2 separate regions of the Homo sapiens genome follow, and region 2 is linked to region 1. The links come from fine-mapping of genetic effects on gene expression. A gene starts in region 1. The other region holds a variant in brackets. All regions are shown on one strand. Distances are from middle to middle. Region 1 holds the start of COBL (cordon-bleu WH2 repeat protein). Region 2 has its middle 33 kb from the start of COBL.

Region 1 (4,389 bases):
CATTTCTTTATAAACTTACATTTAAATATAAACACACACATATATACACACATACACATATACACACACACATATATATATACACATACACACATACACACACACATACAGTGACAAATGCTCAGAAGAAAATTAGGACAAGGCAGCAGTCAGGAGCTTGAGTGAGAGCTGCTTTTATTTTGTGTTTTAAGACAGGATCTCACTCCATTGTCCAGCCTGCTCCCCACTCGCCGCCCCGCCCCGTAGCTGGGATTACAGGTGTGTGCCACCATGCTCCGCTAATTTTTTTATTTTGTAGAAAGTTCTCCCAGGTTGCACAGGCTGGTCTCCGACTCCTGAGCTCAACTGCTCCTCCGGCCTTGGCTTCCCTGAGTGCTGAGGTTACAGGTGTAAGCCACTGTGCTCCGCAGGGTGCTTTTAGACAGAGAGGCCAGGAAAGGCTCCTTGGGGAGACCACGGGATGAAAAGGAGGAGGAAGAGCACTGTGGAGCAGCATCCCAGCCAGAGGCCCTGAGCCGGGAAAGCGCTCCACTCATGGGAGGCTGGGCTGCAGGGAAGTGAGCCCCAGGGCCACCTGGGGACTTAGGAAACCTTCTAGGTGGGAGCAGGGAGCACCCAAGATCTGCCAGCCACGAGTAAGGACTCACATTTTGCATATAGACTGGTCTGCCCCCCCTTCAGTTAATGAGAAAGCAGGGGATCAGAGGGAGGAAGGCTGCGCAGGCCTCTGGATACCTCATCCAATGACAAGATCGCAAGGGGAGCGTCACCCCCAACGCTATCAGGCTCGCCCGATCTGGCCTCTTGTTGGTCTTTTATTCGAGTCATTGAAACCATATGAAACTGCCACTTTTATAGGTCAGCCCATCATACCAACCAAGATCTTAGAGAGTGGAGGTGAAGTTGGGCAGATAAGGGACCTCTGGCTGACTTGCTCTGGGCCCCGGCGTGGCCGGCAGGACCTGCATATCTGCCCGCCAGCCCGCACTGGAGTGGCAGGGTTGTGCCACAGTAGCGCCCAGTGAATCAGGTTGGCAAACTTAAGCGAGCATTCACCTAGAGCGAGTGAGTTGTTAGCAAAGCGAGGCCGCGCTCCAGCCCGCACTGTTTCTGATTCCGTGGGACCTGGTGGGCCCCAGAAATCTGCATTTCTAACAAGTTCCCAGGTGTTCCTGACGCTCCCGGTCGGGACTCCCACTTTGCGACCCTACGCACTAGACATTTGCTGCACGGATAAAGGTCAGAGAGCGGTGCCGGACACTCACTTCTCACCCTCCAACGTCAGTCCTCCCGGGCTGGTCCGCCCACCTCGCCCTCGCACGGCCTCCAGGCTCCAGGTGGTTCCCCTCCCCCAACTCCGCCAGGAGGCGCCGGCCCCGGGATCCCCCACTCCGCCCAGAGAGGGTCGCGCTCCCCCCAGGGGTGGAGGAGCACGGGGAGAAGCCCTCTGCCGCACCCGCGGGTGTCGGTGCAGGGCCCAGGTGCCGGAGGATTCCTTCCCCGGACGCTCGCCGCGGGCCGGGTCGGGACTCTGAGCAGGCGGGGCGGGGCGGGGCGGGGGCGGCGCTCCGGTGGGCGCGGCAGAGCAGCCGGGGCGGGGGCGCGGCGCACCTTGCTCCCGGCGCCCCCGCCCCGCGCCGCCGCCAGCCCCTCCCTGCGCTCCCGGCGCCCCCGCCCGCTAGAGACGATTCCAGCCCCTTCCGTCCGCCGCGCTCCGCCGCTGTCCTCCGCCGGCCCGCGTGGGAGGACGATGGGTCAGCGCGGAAAAAGTGAATGAGGGCGGCAGCGGTGGCGGCGGTAGCCAGCGCCTGACTCGGCGGGCCCGGAGCACCGCCCGCGTCCCGGCCCCCGGCACCATGGACGCGCCGCGCGCCTCGGCGGCCAAGCCCCCGACCGGGTAAGCGGCCCCGCGGTCGGGCGGGGTGGAGAGGGGGCTTCCCTGGGCTCGGACGCCCGCGTCCGCACCGCGCGCTCCCGGGCAGGGCGCCCTCTCTGCCGCCCCAGCGGGTGCTGGTGGTAGTGGTGGAGCAGGTGGTGCGGTGCTGGTGTTGGGTGCTGGTGTTGGGTGGTGGTGCGTGCTGTGTACTTTGGGCACCCGGGTCGTTGCCCAGGTAACCGTGTCGGGCCGGGGCCGGAGCGCACTTTTCGCGCGGGGTGGTTTGTATGCAGGCGTCCTTATGGGGGTCCCCGCCAGCACAGCCCCCACTCAGCTCCGAGCTTTCCTCAGGCCCCCCAAGTGTTTGCCGTAGGGGTGGAGCGGGGAGCGAGGGGACGCCCGGCCTTTGACTCCGGCCTCTTCCCTGCGGGCTTGCCCCTGGCCGGTTCCCATCAAGTCTTCCCTCTCCCGGCCTCGGCGGCAGCCCCAGGATCGGCTCTCCCGGCAGCGTGGAGGGGAGGGCTCCCCGGCTTCGCAGCCGCCCGGGCCCCGCGTTCTCGGAAGGTGTTCGGATTGCCCGGAGGGTTTCATGGCAGCAGCTCTCCCTCCCTGCCTTTATTCCAGGGTCTCCCCTGGCAGTGGAAGGGGCGTCCTAGTGGGGCCAGGCCTGAGGCGCAGACATCCGTAGCGGACCCGCGAGTCTGGCGGCCCATCCCTGTCTTCGCGATTCCGCTTTTGCCCAAACCTCTCCCGGTTTCTGTTTGCTATCCCCACACCTTGCGTGCAGGGATTACACGTCACATTCAGGATTTGACTCTCAGAAAGAGTAATTTCCCTCAAACAGGACGAGCAGCCCTGCTCATTATTCAGACCCCGAGCCAGGTGCGCCGTGCTCATCCCGGCCAGCGGTGCAGGCTGGGCCGCGGGGTAGCGCGCAGTCCCGGTGGACTTTGTAGTTTTCAGCGCGGCGCGCCGGGGACCTTCGAACTCGCTCGCTCGCCTGGAGCAAATGTGTATGAGTCTTGCAAATGGAATGAGGGTTGGGGTGAGCCCTGCACCTGCTTACTGAATGGGCCCACTTTCTGCTATGGCAACTGGACTTGAAGGAGGCAGCTTTGGGGACAACAAATCTTTTTTTCTGTTACAGTTGTGTCCCACTGACTCACCCTGCCCATGTGCCCATAGGCGGGCGTGTTGCCCAAGTGTGTAAAAGACTTTCAGTCGGGCTCTTTTTAAAATTTTAAAGTTTTCCTTTAATGCCAGGAAAAGGTGAGCCAGGTTAGCAAATCAAATAATCCTGAAGCTGAGGAATGTTAAAAAGAAGTTTTCTTTCTCTCTCTCTTTTTTTTTTTTTGCAGTGCACTTACTGGTGGTTATATAATTCTCTTTGAACAAACAAATTCCCCAGAAAGAAAGTAAATGTGGGAAATCCTTTTTCATGGTAATAGGCATCCCAAAATAACAGGGAAATGTGAAACAGAGGTATCTTTAAATCTGTGGCTTTCATAGCCTATTAAATGAGCCTATTTAAGGACACTGAATTATTTTGTCACTATCACCTTATAAATAAATATGAAGACAGAGAGAACATTTAAAAGGCCGGCAAAACTGTATCCAAAGAGTATCTGTAAGATCCTTGAAGGGAGTCTAATGATAGAAGTGAAAGGACTTACCCTAAGAGCGTGGCACTCTTTTCAGCCTGGTACTGTGTGGCAAGAGGTAGTCGAGGGCTGGCCTTCTCAGGGCTTCCCAGAGCTCTGATTGGCTTTCATATTTGAATTGCAAAGTAAAACTAAGGATTTTTGCTATGGAAAACATGAAATTATTCCTGATGCATTCAGTTCTTTCCCTCACTCATATCCAGTGTCTAATTTACTTGTCCGAACATCTTTGTCCAAGAAATGTAGACATATTATTTTTAACTTCTATTGTTCTCACTTTGTCATTTGTTAATACTTTCAGTGAAGAAGCATCAAGAAAATGTTAATATCCTTATATTTTTTCAGACAAGAATTACGTGTTTAATAAGCAATTTTGTGTTCAAATCTGAGGAGATAAATGGTGTTAGGTCTTCGAATATTTTATATAATTTAGGTGTATGCTTGCTAATTATAAAGGTTAGATATTGCTGTGAAATTTGTGGCTTTAGTACATTATTGGTGGCAGGCAGATTCTGTTGGCTCTTCACTGAGATTACTCCTCTGTTCCCTGAGATTAAGGCAGTGTTTGCAGTGTGCTTGAGGGAAATTTGTTTTCCATCTGATTCTGCAACCGTTTATTATAAAATCAAACTTTCAGTAAGCCTCTGTCTTCCCACATGATAACAAACTGATGTGGTGAAGCTGTTGCTGTTGCTGAAACTACCACTCCTCCTTGTGTTGTATAGAAACAAGCTAGACTGGGTGCAGTGAATTAACGAGATTTCACCCTGTGGCCTACAAACGCTCTTCTAGAAGATTACTGAAGGGAGATAGGTTGGTGAATGTAAACTCACTGACTCTGTGTCTGGCTAA
Region 2 (4,389 bases), 34 kb before region 1:
CCACTGGTAGTGGCTCTGGAAGCGGGCCACATCCAAGTTCCATAGGAAGCATTGCATGATGAGTTAGTGCTGCCTGCAAGAGACATGGGAGAGAGGAGTGGGTCTAAGAGCACCACTGCTGGTACTCCCTGGTAGTGCAAAGAGGACTGCACTGGAATCAGATGACGTAGCACTGATGATGTTACAGAATGATGCCAGCGAGGAGGTGGATGGTTAGTTGTGGGTGGCCCCTTTATCATTTTAGAGTCCTCTCAATTCAGGATCTTTTCACCAGCCTTCAAGTGGAAGTTGTCATGTGTGTGTGTGAGCCCAACAGTTATTTGTTTAAGGAAACTAATTCCCATTAATCAAATTCACAAGAGGCCAGTGTAAAAACCAGATATCAACTTCTTAAATTATGTTGAGATATATCAATATTCAGAGAGATATAAATCATATCCAAGAAGATGTGTCTTTCCTTCTGTTGGAAAATTTATATGGAAAACAAATTATAACCAGAAAAAGAAAATGGGATCAGAGGCAGCTGATCAGACTGAAGGCAAAACCCATGGAGTTGAAGCGGCCTGAAACCACCATTTCCCCTGGGGAGGCTGAGCTTGCTGATTGGAATGCTGTCTCCTCTGCACAGAGCTGGAGAGATCTTACCAAGTCTGATCCCGTGGCATCGCTTTGTAGACTCTATGAAAGCACTCTAGTTGCTTCTATTAACCCTCTCTGCACAGAAGTTAATAGGCCCAAGATTTTTGTACATTCAGACGTGTCCATCCATCAGGGCGATTTCTGTAGACACACAGGTTCATACATTATGTGCTGATTTTACTTGCCACACTATCAGGATATCACTTGCAAGTTCTTAGGAGCACTTCACAATGCAACATCTTATACTGCCCACAATTTCTGGTTTAATCTGACACTAATTAGCTTTGTGACTTTGAGTAAGTCAATTCACCTTTTTGGACCAAAGCTATGGAACCCATAACATTTCAGCATATAGGGCAGGACATAGACAAGATGGATTCTTGAGGTTACTCCCAACCTGAGATCAATGATTTCAAGGAGAAAAGGCCTAGAACTCGAGCATTCACACAGAGTACAGCTAGGATTTACACAGAGACCACTAGAGTTGCGGCTACTCCTCTTCTTGGAACAATTACTTATGCGTTTTCTGTTCAAACTGTCTTAGGAGTCAGTTAAGTCACATGTGAGGAAATACACGTCTTGTCATACAATGGATTCTTTGTTTTTTTTTTTTTGGAGACAGAGTCTCGCTGTGTCACCCAGGCTGAAGTTCATTGGTGCGATCTAGGCTCACTGCAACCTCCGCCTCGCGGGTTCAAGAAATTCTCCTGCCTCAGCCTCCCGAGTAGCTGAGAGTACAGGCATGCGCCACCATGCCAGACTAATTTTTGTATTTTTAGTAGAGATGGGGCTTCATCATGTTGGTCAGGCTGGTCTCGAACTCCTAACCTTGTGATCTGCCTGCCTCGGCCTCCCAAAGTGCTGGGATTCCAGACATGAGCCACTGTGCCTTGCCCCACACAATGGTTTCTAAGATCAGTTTGGCAACTTATAGTCTATAAAACTTTGCTGCTTCATAACAATTATATAAGGTATTCATTATTGTTTATCCCTACTTTATAGTTAAGAAAAATCACATCAGAAGTTTTAAGCAAGTGCCTTAGTTTCCATTCCTGAAAATTACAAGCTGTGTGTCAAACCATTCTGACCTCAAACTCCATTGCTTCTGCCAGTAAACAAGGTCCACACCCTTCAGTTCTATTTGCCTTTTCACAATTTACAGGCCATTGCAGCTCAATTTGTTCATGTAATACTCTTTTAATTCAATATGGTCCATACGTACAGCAAGCAA[G/T]ATTTAAACACAAAAAATGTAAACAAGAGTTCAGTATACATTCCACACATGTCGCTCAGAAGCGGGGCTCTCCATGCTAGGAAAACATTCGCTAATGGAACATGCAACGGCTGCATGGGCCCTGTGTATCTGGAGTTTCCGGAAGGGAAGGATGCCAAGGCATACTTGACACCAGGGATCCCAAAAGTTCTTCCTTATGGATTGAAACTCAACACCTGCCTTCACAACGCACAGCCTGCCTATCCTTTTCCTTATTTGGAAGGTGCTATCACAGCTCATACTTGAAATATGAGCAGCCCTGCTACTGGACAAACAGTATTGTGTGTCATGGGAACATCAGATCCAGAGACACTGGGAGTGCTTATGTGCTCATTATGCTGTAAGGCTAAACTTAAGAATCTCCAACTTGGAGACCACTGGGTGTTTCAATGCACATACTTAGGGTCAAAGAAAAGCCAAGCAGGAAGTGTTGCCCAGCAGTTACAGCTGAATCAAGAAGCATAATAGGAAATATTTCCTCTTCTTCACATTTCATGAATGTAAACTGATTGGTTCATTAATAACTACTCCATCCAATCAAATCTATTTCTCTTTTCTTTGGAAATGTGCCTAAATTGCATCTGAGGAAGAGGAATGGAGTTTAATTACTACATCTTGTATGAGAGAAGTCAGACATCCTATGCCCTGTTATCTTCTCAAATTTTCTTCCACCGAAAGGAAAAGAGAAAGAATTTATAACACGTGCCCATTTACAAATACAAGTGAAAAATAAAATGGAATTTGAAAATGCATAATGGAGTATCTTTTATAGTGATATGACCACCAGTGATGTGAATACCAGATTTGCTTAACTCTCTACATTTGATAAGAATTGGGAAAGTACCCCACTGGTAACAATCCTAGCATATAATTTCTTGTTACATAACAGGCAATAGTTGTCCAAACCAGGATTGGTCTGGGAATGAGCGAGGTCTGAGATCATAAAACCTTCCCCTGGGCCCAGCACAGTGGCTCACGCCTGTAATCCCAGCACTTTGGGAGGCCGAGGCAGGCGGATCACAAGGTCAGGAAATCGAGACCATCCTGGCTAACACGGTGAAACCCCGTCTCTACTAAAAATACAAAAAAAAAAAAAAAATAGCTGGGCATGGTGGCAGGTGCCTGTAGTCCCAGCTACTTGGGAGGCTGATGCAGAATGGCGTGAACCCAGGAGGTGGAGCTTGCAGTGAGCCGAGATCGCACCTCCGCACTCTAGCCTAGGCAACAGAGCGAGACTCCATCTCAAAAACAAAACAAAACAAACAACAAAAAAACTTTCCCCTATACTATGAGGAGCTGAGGACAGAGCTGTGGAAAGGAGGTGGAGGCCAGCAACCATCACTTGCATGATTTTTTTAAATCTTTTGCTTTCAAAGTAAAAAATCTAATTTTTCAATTATTAATATCTCAGAGAATATTTATTCACGTGAAAGATAATTCATCTAAAGGTGTATAAAGAAAACAAATATTATAACCAAGTTTTTATTATAATCTTATTTTCAAATTATCTTGGACATTCAGAGTCTTTAACATAGGCTGTAAGAAATAAGCCAAACTATCTGTCTCAGATATATTTAGCATAAAACAAAGGTTTTAAAAATTTTTTGTGGCTTTTTTTTTCTGACAGAGTCTTGTGCTGCCACCCAGGCTGGAGTGCAGTGGCATGACAGCTCACTGCAACCTCTGCCTCCTAGGTTCAAGCGATTCTCATGCCTCGGCCTCCCAAGTAGCTGGGATTACAGGTGTCCACCACTACGCCCGGCTAATTTTTGTATTTTTAGTAGAGACAGGGTTTCACCATGTTGGCCACGCTGGTCTTGAACGCTTGGCCTCAAGTGATCCACCTGCCTCCGCCTCCCAAAGTGCTGTGATTATAGGCATCAGCCACCACGCCCAGCCTTAATTGCTGATTATTTCATATACCAACATAACCTTCAATATGAACAATTCATGCAATCCTTAGGATGGGTCCATGAGGCCAACATTTTTGTTCTCCTATTTTATAGATGGGAATTGCGGCTCCAATGGGGGCCTTTAGCACACACCCCCGGCCTGCACTAAGGGGCTAGTTCTCTGAGTAATAGCTTCACCCTGGAAGTTACACCCAATTATAAAATTATTTTAAGGCTGGGCACAGTGGTTCATGCCTGTAATCCCAGCACTTTGGGAGGCCGAGGTGGGTGGATCATTTGAGGTCAAGAGTTCGAGACCAGCCTGACCAACATGGTGAAACCCGTATCTACTAAAAATACAAAAATTAGCCGGGCATGGTGGCAGGCGCCTATAATCCCAGCTACTTGGGAGGCTGAGGCAGAAGAATTGCTTGAAGCCAGGAGGTGGAAGTTGCAGTGAGCTGACATCGTGCCAGTGTACTCCAGCCTTGGCGACAGAGTGAGACTCCACCTCAAAAAAAAAATCATTTTAAGATTAATATTTTGAAAGAAAATCATTAATTTGGGGAGTCTGTATTATTGGCTGAA

What was found. PIP is the estimated chance that this variant, and not a neighbour inherited with it, causes the effect.
Region 2: its variant is the best candidate, but not a certain one, in a credible set for the expression of COBL in lung (TOPMed, PIP 0.51).

The regions. Positions count from the first base shown.
Region 1 is chr7:51,314,101-51,318,489 of GRCh38, reverse strand. COBL (cordon-bleu WH2 repeat protein) reads left to right here and starts at 1,681. Exons shown (of 13, transcript NM_015198.5): 1 at 1,681-1,897. The coding sequence starts at 1,857. It overlaps LOC124901633 (a long non-coding RNA gene), which reads right to left and starts at 1,506. Exons shown (of 2, transcript XR_007060324.1): 1 at 1,266-1,506; 2 at 158-443. RefSeq lists enhancers at 237-829, 830-1,423.
Region 2 is chr7:51,348,077-51,352,465 of GRCh38, reverse strand. No RefSeq gene overlaps it. Among named protein-coding and RNA genes, the nearest start is that of COBL, 33 kb to the right of the region's middle. The variant G/T (reference allele first, on the strand shown) is at 1,871.